Linked DNA regions of Homo sapiens. The protein of the gene in region 4 purifies or fractionates together with the protein of the main gene of each other region. This does not show direct contact. Each region holds a gene or a part of one and is shown on either strand. Other genes may lie near its edges.

Evidence for each region. Proteins that work in one complex are often made in the same cells at the same time.
Region 1: the proteins of EVA1C (region 4) and PNMA2 purify together in Homo sapiens (affinity purification with mass spectrometry; 4 studies listed by BioGRID and IntAct, with this or other methods). This does not show direct contact.
Region 2: the proteins of EVA1C (region 4) and KIDINS220 purify together in Homo sapiens (affinity purification with mass spectrometry; 4 studies listed by BioGRID and IntAct, with this or other methods). This does not show direct contact.
Region 3: the proteins of EVA1C (region 4) and DNAJC1 purify together in Homo sapiens (affinity purification with mass spectrometry; 3 studies listed by BioGRID and IntAct, with this or other methods). This does not show direct contact.

What each region holds. Positions count from the first base shown.
Region 1 is NC_000008.11:26,507,537-26,510,872, forward strand, and holds part of PNMA2 (paraneoplastic antigen Ma2), read right to left. Parts: intron 2,142-3,336; 5' UTR 2,012-2,141; intron 1,708-2,011; 5' UTR 1,220-1,707; coding exon 125-1,219; 3' UTR 1-124.
Region 2 is NC_000002.12:8,785,614-8,789,113, forward strand, and holds part of KIDINS220 (kinase D-interacting substrate of 220 kDa), read right to left. Parts: intron 3,200-3,500; coding exon 3,034-3,199; intron 745-3,033; coding exon 593-744; intron 418-592; coding exon 128-417; intron 1-127. UniProt on the Homo sapiens protein: Promotes a prolonged MAP-kinase signaling by neurotrophins through activation of a Rap1-dependent mechanism. Provides a docking site for the CRKL-C3G complex, resulting in Rap1-dependent sustained ERK activation.
Region 3 is NC_000010.11:21,881,731-21,885,230, forward strand, and holds part of DNAJC1 (dnaJ homolog subfamily C member 1 precursor), read right to left. Parts: intron 710-3,500; coding exon 552-709; intron 1-551. UniProt on the Homo sapiens protein: May modulate protein synthesis.
Region 4 is NC_000021.9:32,510,206-32,513,705, forward strand, and holds part of EVA1C (protein eva-1 homolog C isoform 1 precursor), read left to right. Parts: intron 1-3,500. UniProt on the Homo sapiens protein: Binds heparin.

The DNA of each region.
Region 1 (3,336 bases), on a different chromosome or scaffold from region 4:
AAGGAAGGAAGGAAGGAAGGTCAATAATTGGCTTTCATGGTTTGATTTCAGTCCCATACATTAAAGAAAAAAATTTTTTAAAGGTCTTAGCCCACTGGCTGTGGGTCCTGCCCCCAGGTGGTTTTCAGTCGTCTCCCTCATGATTCCAGCGGCCATAGCCATCTCGTTCCTCTGGCTCTTCGATACTCTCATTCTCAAAGGAGGCCTCTTCCTCCTCTTCTTCCCGTATTACCTTCATTAGCTCAAGGAAGCTGGGGGGCGGGCCCTGATCCTTCAGCTCCCTAAGCCGGCACCACAGCATCTGGTTAAGAGTGGCCCCAGCCATGACCTGCTCCAGGCGGACCTGGTCCGCAATACGCCGAGGGATGGCGCGTTTCTCCACCGCTCTCCGGAGCAGGGTTTCTAGCCGTAACACATAGGCTGAGACCTTCTCTCCTTCCTCCTGATAGGTCTTCAGATACCTCACCTGGGCTGTCCTGCGGCTCTCTAGGCTCCCAAACACTTGCTTAAAGGCCTCCAAACACTCTTCTACACTGATGGACGGGTTGTCTGCCTGCACTATGTGCATGAGGTCCAGGGCAGGGCCCCGCAGGCTTTCCGCCAGCCACCTTTTCTTTTCTGCCTCTGTTACTGGCCACTCTTTGACTATCTCCGTGGCCTGTTCCAACCAGACCTCAAAGGACTCTTCCTCTGGGGCTGGGACAGCACTCCCTGAGAATACTCGCAGTTTCCGGTATCTCATGGGTAGCAGGGGCTGAGGCGCATGTGCCATTGCCTGTCCCAACAAATGGGCCAGTAATTCTGGTGAGATGCAGGGCACTGTGGCTGGAGACACGCCCTCCTGCCCCAGGGCTCGAAACATACCCGAGACCGTCTGCCCCTCTTTTTCTAGAAACAGGTTCAATCTTTCAAGAAACTCAGTGTCCTGATTAGGGGTCTTAAAGATCACCTTCCAGACACCCCCCTTTCCCTGGACCTCACTGGGAATGGCCGAGACATCAGTATCTTCCAGAAGCTCTAGTAAGACAGCATTGGCATTCTCCTGCTTCCGGAATATCTTGCCAAGCAGTCTATACCTGCCCAGAGACTTTAAAGTCTCCTGAAGGACCTCCTGAATCTCAGCCTCCTCAAAGTCCGCCGGTATCCCCGTAACCATCAGTGACTTCTGCTCATCCACACTCATTATCCTGCACCAGTCCTCTAACAGTGCCAGCGCCATTGTCCTAAGAATTGACCCACTCTGACTCTACAGGCACCAATTTGTTAGTGGTGCAGCTATGCACTGACTTAATATTGAAAATATCCTGGATGAGCTTCTAACCTTAGAACCCACCAATGAATGGGTCCCAGACTAGGTCACTCAAAGACAGTCACAAAGTTTTCTGGACAAATGACCCTGGCCTACTCAGTGGCAAGAACTCAGGACTTCTTGTCTTTAGGCCTGACCCAGGTGGGCAGGTCGTATCTCAGTTCTAACCACACCTGTGCCCGCAGCTCTGAAGTCCGATTGCCAGTGATTTTCTCAAAGATGCTGGCAGCCACGTGACGCTGACCCTTCTCTGATAGTTGAGGCACCTGGGACAGCTGCTTTCTCCACAGCCTCCTGGTCTCTGATGTTTCGTCTCTCTCCAGTTGATGGGAAAATGCCTTCCACTCTGGGACCCAGAACTCTTGAAGAGAAGCCTCCCAGCAGGGCGGCTTGGACCCCTGGTGAAACAATGTTCAGTTTTACTACACAGCACTCTCTTTCCTTGGAAGCATCCATACTCTAATCTGGAATGGAACTGGGGGCAGATGGCGGTTCTGCTTTACACTGCGCTTGCATTTGTCCCACTCTGTCAGACCCCTTCTTTGCTCACTGTGACTTTTTTTTCTCTTGGGGACTCCAATGAAATCTGGTGTCCCCACCATATGCTCATCAGACCTGTTGATTAATGTCTGAGCCCCAGTTAAGGACAGGATTCAAGGTCTTTGCCATTGAAAGATGAAATCAGGAGATGTGGCTAAATACCTGTTGATGTGTTCCCGAGTGTTCCGCGAGAGGTGAGGAGCTTATTTATTCACCTTTTAGCACAGGAAGACATCACCCACCTCCACACAGTGGTGTGTCTGGCTCTTAGCTCCAGCCAAGCCAAGCTGCTCTGTTACACATAAACAATAAGAACAGGTATTTATGCTTCATTAATATTCAGTAGGAAGACCGTTAATGCACTTATTCAAAAATATGATAATCCTTCACAATACTACTCAATATTAAGTTGCTTTACCTCTTTGATTAACAAAACTAATGAGGAATCACTCAAACGTTTAAAAATAGTTTAATCTAGGTATAACAATTCAGGGAAAAAAATCTCAGGGCCGACTAAGTTAAATCGGGAATTATGAATTAATTCTCTTTTGTTGTGTCTGGAAGGCTTTGCAAACACACATTTGGGCTTTGCTTTTGCTATGAATGGTAAGTGAAATAGTTTGAAGGTTTGTCCCCTCCAAATCTCATGCTGAAATGTGATCCCCAGTGTTGGAGGTGGGGCCTGGTGGGATGTGTTTGGGTCATGAGAGTGGATCCCTTATGAATGGCTTGGTGCCATTCTTGGGGTAATGAGTGGGTTCTTGTTCTATTAGCTTCCTCGAGATCTGATTGTTAAAAACAGACTGCCACCTCCCTCCCCTCACTCTTGCTCCCTTTCTTGCCGCATCTGCTCCCTCTTTGCTTTCTGCTATGACTGGAAGCTTCCTGAGGGGTCACCAGATGCAGATGTCAGCACCATACTTCTTGTACAGCCTGCAGAACTGTGACCCAAATAAACCTCTTTTCTTTATAAATTATCCAGCCTCAGGTATTCCTTTATAGCAACACAAAATAGACTAAGACAATAAGTTACTAACACAACACTCTCCAAGCATTTGTTTCTGTTTCTGTTTTTTGAGACAGGGTCTCACTCTGTTGCCGAGGCTGGAATGCAGTGGTGTAAACACGGCTCACTGTAGTAGCCTTGATCTCTCCTGGGCTCAAGCAATCCTCCCACCTCGACCTCCTGAGTACCTGGGACCACAGGCACATGCCACCATGCCTGGCTAGTTTTTTAAATTTTGTGTAGAGACGCAGTCTCCTTACGTTGTTCAGCCTGGTCTCAAACTCCTGGGCTCAAGCAATCCTCCCGCCACAGCCTCTCACAGTGCTGAATTACACACTTGAATCACCACACCCAGCCTTTCCTAACATTTGAACTTTAACCCATCATTTGAGAAAAAAGAAAAAAGGAGGAAGCACACCTATCAAGGATTTTGTTCTGGAGAACCTGTGAGGATTAGAGAACGTAAAAAAGTTAGAGTTGG
Region 2 (3,500 bases), on a different chromosome or scaffold from region 4:
AACAAATTAAACTAAAATAAATGCAACACTTTAACATTTAGAGAGTGTACTTCCTAAAGCCCAAATGAGCATGGCAGTGGCAACATATTCGCATTACAATTTTTTCTAATAACCAATGAGTGCTTACTTTCATGAATCCTTCACTTTTCAATTTGTGCAGTTTGGAGGCTGCATTATGGAGGCGTTTTCTTTGGGAATTCAGGAGCGAGTCCAGCACTTGCCACCATGTACGACAGTTCAACACAAAGGCCAATCCCACTACAGATGCGATTGATATGAGGACAGCATTTACAGTCAGATGCTTTGGGTCAACTCTAAATATAGCCAGAAGAGTAATTCCAGATATAATGCAGCCAATGATAAAAAGGAAGATGACAAAAGATGGGAGACAACATGTTTTTTTCCATTTCTTTTTACCTGTAATGCAACAAATGGTTTTAATAATTAACATATCAAGGATCTAGAAAATCCTAACATTATAGTCACAATACCTGATGAGTCTAATGTTCAAGGTGTGTTTTCATGAAAATAAACTGAACATCTATCCCACCCCCATCCCTTACACACAAAGAAGGAAGGAAGGAAATCCTACCCTGAGTATCTTCAGTCTTGAATACTCGAAAAAGCCTGGTTGCCAAAAAGCCAAACTCTCTTTCACAAGCATCCGAGAGGGTTGCAATCATTTCAGCCAGAGAAGTTTCTCCACCTACACTGGACAGTCTATTGTAATCTGTAAACAAAAACCTTGAAGAAAAGAACAAATCAAACATTACTTTATTATCTAAAGTAACAAATAACTTCAATGTATGTCATCTTTGCATCACTTACCCTTTATTTTCTTTTTGTCTCTTTCAAAATATTGTTTTTTAAATTCCAAGGAGGGAAAAGAATTTGTAATTAGGTAGCTTCCACTTCTAAAATCTTACATACTTTTCTTAGGAAAAAACAGTAACAAAAGTGAAATGTGCAGGGCCATATAAAGTAATTCTGACTAAGGACAGGCGGGGGAAAGTTACGCCAGAACTTAGATGTGGAGTATCAAGACACCCCAACAGATCTCACGACATAGTGGTTAAAAGGTGACACACGTGTCATGATGTGGCCACCAAGAGTTGCACAAGAAAGTTTTCTAACACCAACGAAAGAGACTCTAACCCTGAAAAAATATTAATTACAGTCATTAAAGAATTTCAAGCCCAGTAATACCATTTAAAAACTCAAGTTTTAGCATGGCTTATTTTATTTATAGCTTCCACGTCTACCAGGGATTGAGAAATAGTTGTAAAATATTCTCTTCACAATTGATCTTCAAAATTAAGTGAATTATTTGTATTCAGAGTCTCTGAATCATTATTATTTCTGTTAGTTCCTTTCTCCCTTCCATCTCTAAATTAAACTCTCATCTCAGTCCAGTAGATAAGCATTGCTCTCAGAATACAATCTGTAATATACTGTGTGGTCTTGACGATGCTACTTTAATTGTTCTAACTGAAAAAAAAAAATACCACCTCATTAATTTAGACTGGTTTCCTTATTTTCTGTAAAAATATTCCCCCAATTATTTTATTCTGTTTTCCTTTTAACTTTTTCACTTTTAAATCCTTTTCTTAATACTTAATTCTCTATGCTAGTTACTTAAAAGTTTTTACCTTTATTTTTCTCTTATACTCAGTTTTAATATTTTACCTGGTTTGGCTTATTTATTTTCATCTTAAATTACACTTATTTTTTCTTATAACTAAAAAATTTTCATCTTTTAATGCTTTTTTTTTTTGAGCAGGGTCTCACTTTGTCACCTAGGCTGCAGTGCGGTGGCGTGATCTTGGCTCACTGTACCCTCAACCCCCGAAGCTTAAGCAGTCCTCCCACTTCAGCCTCCCAAGCAGCTAGAACTACAGGCACGCACCACCACACCCAGCTAATTTTTCTATTTTTTGTAGAGATGGGGTTTTGCCTTTACCCAGGCTTGTTTTGAACTCCTGAGCTCAAGCAATTGACCACTTTGGCCTCCCACAGTGCTGGGATTACAGGTGTGAGCCACCACATCTGGCTTAATACATTTTAAATTCTTACATTGCTTACTTCCATTGAATTTCTTTTGCTTTTAACTTTCTAGCTTTTTTTTTTTTTCATTTCACTGTCCTCTGGAGCCCTCTACCTTTCCTTTATTCCTGGACTTAAACATTTTTCATCTTTTCTTTTTTCTCATAAATTTCCTACTTAATATGAATAATAATTTTAGACAGACATGTGAATATATTTCCTGAGCTGAGAAAAGCACAGCTCAGAGAGGGGAGCTGGGTTTCCCCAGGTTAACCGCTCACATAAGGAAGGGCCAGGTCTCCAGCGGGAAGCTCTCTGGGGACCAAGGCCAGTGGCTGGACCCCTCCTCCATCCAGTGCTCTCTTCAAAGTGTGTTCCAAAAGATGGTAACAGGTGACATAACAGGGAGAAAAGGTTTATGCTTAAATAAAATTTGGTAAATAAAAGTTAAACAGGTTTCTTTATGGAAAGGTGCCTCTGATCCTTTAACGTACAGGAGGGATATATAATCTGAAGTGTTTCCCACGGTATTTGACCAGGGCATGTTTTTATTTCTGTATGTAAAAGGTTCCAATGTTTTTTGGAACATACATTGAGAAATTATATTCTATAAACTTTTTTTTTTTTTTGAGACAGAGTTTCGTTCTTGTCGCCCAGGCTGGAGTGCAATGGCGCGATCCTGGCTCACTGCAACCTCTGCCTCCCAGGTTCAAGCGATTCTCCTGCTTCATCCTTCCAAGTAGCTAGGACTACAGGCATGCGCCATGACGCCCCCGCTAATTTTGTATTTTTAGTAGAGATGGGGTTTCACCATGTTGGCCAGGCTGGTCTCGAACTCCTGACCTCAGGTGATCTGCCCACCTTGGCCTCCCAAAGTGCTGGGATTACAAGCGTGAGCCACCACACCCGGCTCCTATAAACTTTCCGAAGTGAAAAATATTTTTTTCTGAATCTCATTGAAGATTTCTTCTGTCAAATGGTACAACTCACCTCACAGGTAAAGCTTTAGTAGTCTGCTCTGGCAACTCAGGTGGATTCACAAACATCAATTTAAGGAGGAGTTCCAAATATCCAATATGTCTTGCCAATCTAGTGCTGAGGACCCAGGCCCAATTCCAACTCTCTCCTTCTCTTCGTCCACCAAAGTAAATGACAACTGAAATTCACAGTTTAAAAAAGTTATCCAAAGCAGTCACTAGTCAAGCAGATCTTTTCTCCAAAGATCAAGTATCAAGTAATGAGAGCTAAGCTTACATAGCTTCCTATGGTCCCATACTATTTCCTAACTACTCCTCAAAGAATTCCATTAACCTCCCCTAAGATACAGAAGATATGAAAAATGAAAAGTAAACTGACTAAAACATGCCTTAAACAGAAACATAACTGCAGTTCAGATTCAAATGCAAATCATCTTGGGTTTATCACTATTCGCAACTGGTGAAGTTGGTTATCAGTTC
Region 3 (3,500 bases), on a different chromosome or scaffold from region 4:
ATACCACAAGAATTACCAAAATGTTATATAGAGACACAAAGGAAGGAGATGCTTTTGGAAAAATGGTGCCCGTAAACTTGCTCAATTCAGGGCTGCCACAAACCCTCAATTTGTAAAAAAAAAAAAAAAAAAAAAAAAAACCGGCCAGGCACGGTGGCTCACACCTGTAATCCCAGCACTTTGGGAGGCCGAGGGGGGCAGATCATGAGGTCAGAAGATCAAAACCATCCTGGCTAACACGGTGAAACCCTGTCTCTACTAAAAACACAAAAAATTAGCCAGGCGTGGTGGTGGGCACCTGTAGTCCCAGCTACTTGGGAAGCTAAGGCAGGCGAATGGCATGAACCCGGGAAGCAGAGCTTGCAGTGAGCTGAGATTGCGCCACTGCACTCCAGCCTGGGTGACAGAGCGAGACTCTGTCTCAAACAAAACAAAACAATAGTATTTGTGAAGTGCAATAAAACAAAGCACTATATCGTGAGCTAACCCTGTATTTTATGTGCTTTTCTGTACATGTTTTACTCAAAACAAGTTTTATAAAGCTTATTTACCTGTTTTTTCTGTGTTCGGTTCCTGTTTTCCAACCAATCATCCATTTGTTCCTCAATTTCTTCTATGGAAGTTCCATGATCATAAGACTGAATATATGTAGTTTCTAAAGGTGTGTATACAGGAAATTCAGGTTTTGGTTTTTTAACTTTCTTCTGTTCTAAAAAATGTTTAAAAGAACCAATTATTGAGATTTTTAAAGAATAAAATTAATTTCTAACATTTTATTCATAGACCATATCCTGAAAGAAAACATCAAAATATAATTGTTCTGTTATAAATAATTGGCTATAACTTTTATTGTACATAAACCATTGCATTGTTTCTAAATAAAACTCAGAGTTGCTACTATTGTGGAGATGATCATGAGATAGCCATCATATCAATTTGCATACACCTTTGTTTTCAAAGTACTTTTCATAAAATATTTCATTTTGGCACAATAAAAAGAGCTTCAATTTAATATTGTAACCCTAACTTTACCATGTAATAAGTAAATAATACTGGGCAAATAAATTAACACTTAGAACAGTATCAACTTTCTCATCTATAAAAAAAACCTGGCTCTCACTAAATGGTATACATTTATTTTTCAATATTTTACAAAGGTGAAATATGATCTGGCAACATCAAGAGTAGTTATGAATCGATGGCCATCCATTGGGCTCTTTATTAAATCCCATTTTAGGCCTAGGAGCAGTGGTTCACGGCTCTAATCCCAGCATTTTGGGAGGCCAAGGCAGGTGCATCACTGGAGGCCAGGAGTTCGAGACCAGCCTGGGCAAAATGGCAAAACCCTTCTTCTACTAAAAATGCAAAAATTAGCTGCGTGTGGTGGTACATGCATGTAATCCCAACTACTTGGGAAGCTGAGGCATGAGACTCACTTGAGCCCAGGAGGTGGAGGGTGGGGTTAGCCAAGATCACACCACTGCATTCCAGCCTGGGTGACAGAGTGAGATTCTATCTCAAACACACACACACACACACACACACACACACACACACACACACACCATTTTAACTGGAGACTTGACATTGAGAAGCAACTCCATTCTTAATTACTATAGTCAAACTCAGCCTCATAAGAGTATTTTCACCACCCCATGTGTACGTGTGTATGTGTGTATTTGCATGTACTATACTGCCAATGTAACAAAATCAGTATATACTGGCATAGGAATAGACAAATTCCTAGAAGAGAATAGAGAATCTGTAAATACCAATGCTTGTTGACTTATTATGGGATTACATCCTGATAAACCTATCATATATTGAAAACATCCTTAATTAGAAAATGCATTTAATAAAACTAACTTCATGGCTTAGCCTAGTCTACCTTAAGTGTACTCAGAACATTTACATTAGCTTATAGTTGGGCAAAATAACATAGTGACACAGTACACTGTAGAGGATCAGTTTTAATCCTCATGATCATATGGCTAAGTGGAAGCTGCAGTTTGCTGCTGTTACCCAGCATTATGAGGGAGTATCCTACCGCATATTGCTAGTCCAGGAAAAGATTCCAAATTCAAAGTACAGTATTGTTTTTGCACTATCATAAAGTCAAAAAATTGTAAGTCAAATCATTATAAGTCTAGGATTGTCTATATTTCAATTTAGTGGGAAAACAATTTATTAAGTAATGCTTACACAACTGAGTATCCATTTAAAAGAAAACTCTTACACTGTATACACAAATAAATTCCAGATAGAGAAGAGAGTTGACTTTAAAAGCCAAAACAATAAAAATTTTGCAAAAAGAAATCTTAAAATCTACTTGTACTATTTAAAGGAAGGGGACATCTAAATAAGAATGAAAACCCAGATGCTGTTACAAAAAAGATAAAAGAGTAAACAAATCAAGAGACAAATAATAGATTTGGAAAGGATGTATCCAATTCAGAGTATAAACAGAAGATTGCTATAAACAGATTTTATAAATGGACAACCACCCAATAGAAAAATATAGGCAAAAGGTCATAAATGGGCAATCCACAATTGAGTGCCCACGTGGCTAACAAATAAGAAAAGAGGCTCATACACTCTAAAGGTTAAAGAAATACAAATTAAGTAATACCAAGATATAATTTTATACCAATCATATGGGTACAAATTTAAAATCTAATTCAGATGTACTGTTGGCAGGGAAAAGGCTACTTCTAAATTGGTGGAGGAAATGTATTATTCTATTAGAGCCTTTCTGGAAAGCAGTCTAAACATATCCATTAAAATTAACATATACAGCCTTTTCCCCAGCAATTCTCCCAGAAACAAAAGTACTCAAATATAACTGTATGTGGGTATGTATGTATTTGTGTGTGTATGACTATTTACTATTTCTTCATAGAGAGATGAAACTATTAACACAGTAAACACTATTAGGAGAAATGACTGAATAATTATTGATGATGCTTTTACAATGAGAAGTATGAAATCACCATTGAAGTAGAGCAATAGCAGAAGTAATTTGGGCTACATATAGAGAATCAGTTATTTTTTTAAAAAGCAAATAAATTCAATTGTTTGTATTTATTTCTGGGGTGTTTCATCACAACTGCAAGTGATGTCTTTTTAAATAAGCATTTATAAAGGGGCACTAAATACAGAAATGAAATACTGCTATAAGCTAATACAAAAATACACAGACCAGTGTCACTATAAATCAACCACACAAACAAGCCAACATTATAACCAGCTAACAATACAATGACAGGATCAAATCCACACATATCAATACTAACCCTGAATGTCAATGTGCTAAATGCCCCACTTAAAAGTCACAGAGTGGCAAGCTGGATAAAAAAACAAGACTCAATGGCATGCTGTCTTCAAGAGACCCATCTCACAAGTAACGATGCCCTTAGCCTCAAAATAAAGAAATGAAGGGAAAACTACCAAGCAAATGGAAAACAGAAAAAAGCAGGGGTTGCAATCCTAATTTAAAGATT
Region 4 (3,500 bases):
CCCTGGCTAATTTTAATTTTTGTATTTTTAGTAGAGATGGGGTTTCATCATGTTGGCCAGGCTGATCTCAAACTCCTGACCTCAAGTGATCCGCCCACCTCAGCCTCCCAAACTGCTGGAATTACAGGTGTGAGCCACCACTCCCGGCCGATTTCCGCCATTACTTTTGCACCAACCTAATAGCTTAGGAGAGGGAAGAGGCCATCTATAAGTTTTAAGTCAGGCAGTGATGTGACCCAATGTGTGTTTCTTAAAGATTATAGAGGCCATGCAGGAAAGATGGTTTATATATGGTCTGTGGTCGCTTTTGCACTACAATAGCAGAGCTGTTATATTTGCAACAGAGACCATATGGCCCATAAACCTGCAATAGTTCCTATCCGGCCATTCACTAGAAAAGGCGGGCAAGAGAGGAGGATGGGGACCAGGTGCCTGCAGGGAAGATGGAGCAGAACAGTGTTTCATCCCTGGTTTTCAGATAATTTCACAAGGTTGAAAGACATCTTAATGAAAGTGAAAGTACAAGGCACTTACCAGGAGATATTCACACCAGATGCCATGGCTCACACCTGTAATCCCAGCACTTGGGGAGGCCAAGGCAGGAGGATCACTTTCAGCCAGGAGTTTAAGACCAGCCCGGGCAACAAAGTCAGACCTCATCTTTACAAAAAAATATAATAAAAAGTTAGCTAGGCATGGTAGTACATGCCTGTAGTCCCAGCTTCTAAGGAGGCTGAGGTGAGAAGATTGTTTGAGCCCAGGAATTCAAGGCTGCAGCAGGCTATGATTGTGCCACTGCACTCCAGCCTGGGTGACAAAGGGAGACTCTCTCTCTCTCCCTCTCTCTCTCTCTATCTATATGTATACACAATATATTTGCTGTCAAAGGATTATCATCAAGAGTCTATAGAAAATATACACATCCTTGGACTAGGCACGGTGGCTCACGCCTGTAATCCCAGCACTTTGGGAAGCTGAGGCGGGCAGATCACCTGAGGTCAGGAGTTCAAGACCAGCCTGGCCAACATGGCAAACCCCGTCTCTACTAAAAATACAAAAATTAGCTGGTGTGATGGCATGCACCTGTAATCCCAGCTACTTGGGAGGCTGAGGCAGGAGAATCACTTGAACCTGGGGTGGGGGGCGGAGGTTGCAGTGAGCCAAGATCATGCCACTTACACTCCAGCCTGGGCAACTGAGCAAAACTCCGTCTCAAAAAAAAAAAAAAAAAAAAAAGAAAGAAAGAAAGAAAAGAAAAAAGAAAATATACACATCCTTTATATGTAACTGGAAAAGCACAGGCAACCCAGAAAAAAAATGGGTACATGACATGAGCCAGCATTTGGAGAAGAGGAAATACATAAGCATGTGAAGACAGGTACAGATCAGGGGAACACAAATCAAGACCATCGTAAGGTACAATTCTATACCCATGTGATTAGAAAATAATGTAAAAGTCTATGTGAGCCAAGTGCTGGAGAAGATGAGGACTGACAGGATTTCTCACACATTGCAGCCACTTTGAACACCGTGTTGGCAGTAGTTCTGAAAATTGAAACTCACGTGCCCTAAGTCCATCAGTTACCTCCTAGGGTAGTACCCAAGAGAAACGCTTGCAGGTGTTGACCAGGGACATTGACAAGAATGCTCACGATCATCCACAAAAGCAGAAACCTGGCAACAGCAGGAGAGCAGGCAAATAAACAGTTCCCGACCCACCAGCAGGAGAGTGGGTGAATAAACTACATTATAGCCAAGACAGTGAAATATTTTACAGCGATATGATATTAAATTAAAAAAAAACACCAAGTCTCCAACACTACCTATAATATTATACCCTTTAAATAAAATTTTAGGAATACATAGAGACGGAAAATAAAACTATATAAAAAAGGAAACAGGGGAGTAAGGAGCTTGGAATTCAGGTGGTAGTCACCTTGAGGGGGAGGCAAGGGGATGGGGAAGCACAGGTTAGACACAGGTGTGGTCAAGGCCTCGCTCCTATACGGGTGTGCATTCATAGCACTGGTGCTAATTACAGTATTAAAAAGTAATTCGTTAGACATAAAGTAGGGCTATGTATTGACCAATGAAGAGAATGTCTCATGTCCTAAGGATTATGGGTAATTTAATTCAGTCCACCAGGAATCCTCAAAATATGAAAAAAGAGGTACAGTAGCAAGTCCATAGTTACCGGCTGTGGCACCCTACTCCCTTCTTGGAACCTGAAACGTCCCCATTCGACTTCCTTCACTTATAGCTCAAGTCGCTGCTGGAATTGACTGCTGGAATTGATTGCTCTGCTGTGACCCTACTCTGTCTGCCCTGGGTACCCGGCCCCTCCCACGACACCACCACTGGGAGAGGAGGGGAGGGGGCCACGGATGACCATTGTACCTCAGAGGCTTGAGCTGGATGGAATTGTTTCTGTCCAGATCTGTCCCTGGCCTGACCATGGGTGGCTGGAAAAGACTATAAATGGATGGGATTCAGCTTCCTCACACTCAGCACTCCTTGAGGTCGGCAGCATCACTGGCAGTGGGGCTCAAAGTTTATATTTTCCAAGACAGAGAAGTTGAGTTGTGGCCCACCTTGAAAGCCCTAACAGCATCACAGAAGGAGAGGGTTTGGAGAGGACAGTGGCTCAAAGATTTCGGGGGAGAGGAGGGCTGCAGGATGGGGAGGAAAGGAGGGAAATTCAAAGGGGAGGAAGATGAAAGTGAAGTCGGGAGAGATGAAGCTTTGATCTGCATATTACTTACAGTATACAGGCTTCCATCTGTATAATACTTACAATAATATAGTAAGTATTATAATACTTACAATAATATAATAAGCATTATAATACTTACAATAATATAGTTGTTATTATTGTAATATAGTTGTTACTATATTATTGTAAGTATTATAATACTTACAATGATATAATATCATTATAGTAGTATTATAATACTTACTATATTATTTTATTTTATTTATTTATTTTTTTGAGATGGAGTCTCACTCTATTGCCCAGGCTGGAGTGCAGTGGCGTGATCTCGGCTCACTGCAAGCTCCACCTCTCGGGTTCACGCCATCCTCCTGCCTCAGCCTCCTGAGTAGCTGCGACTACAGGCGCCCGCCACCACACCCGGCTAGTTTTTTTTTTGTACTTTTGGTACAGACGGGGTTTCACCATGTTAGCCAGGATGGTCTCGATCTCCTGACCTCGTTATCTCCTGCCTCGGCCTCCCAAAGTGCTGGGATTACAGGCGTGAGCCACCGTGCCCGGCCAATACTTATTATATTATTAATATTTATAAATAATATACATATTTATATTATTTATTTTAATATTTTTCTTTTCTTTTTTTTTTTTTTTTTTTGAGGCAGGGTCTCACACTATTACCTAGGTTGGAGTATGGTGATATGATCTTGACCTCCCAGGCTCAAGTGATCCTCCCACCTCAGCTTCCCTAGTAGCTAGGACTACAAGCACGCACCACCATGCCCAGATATAT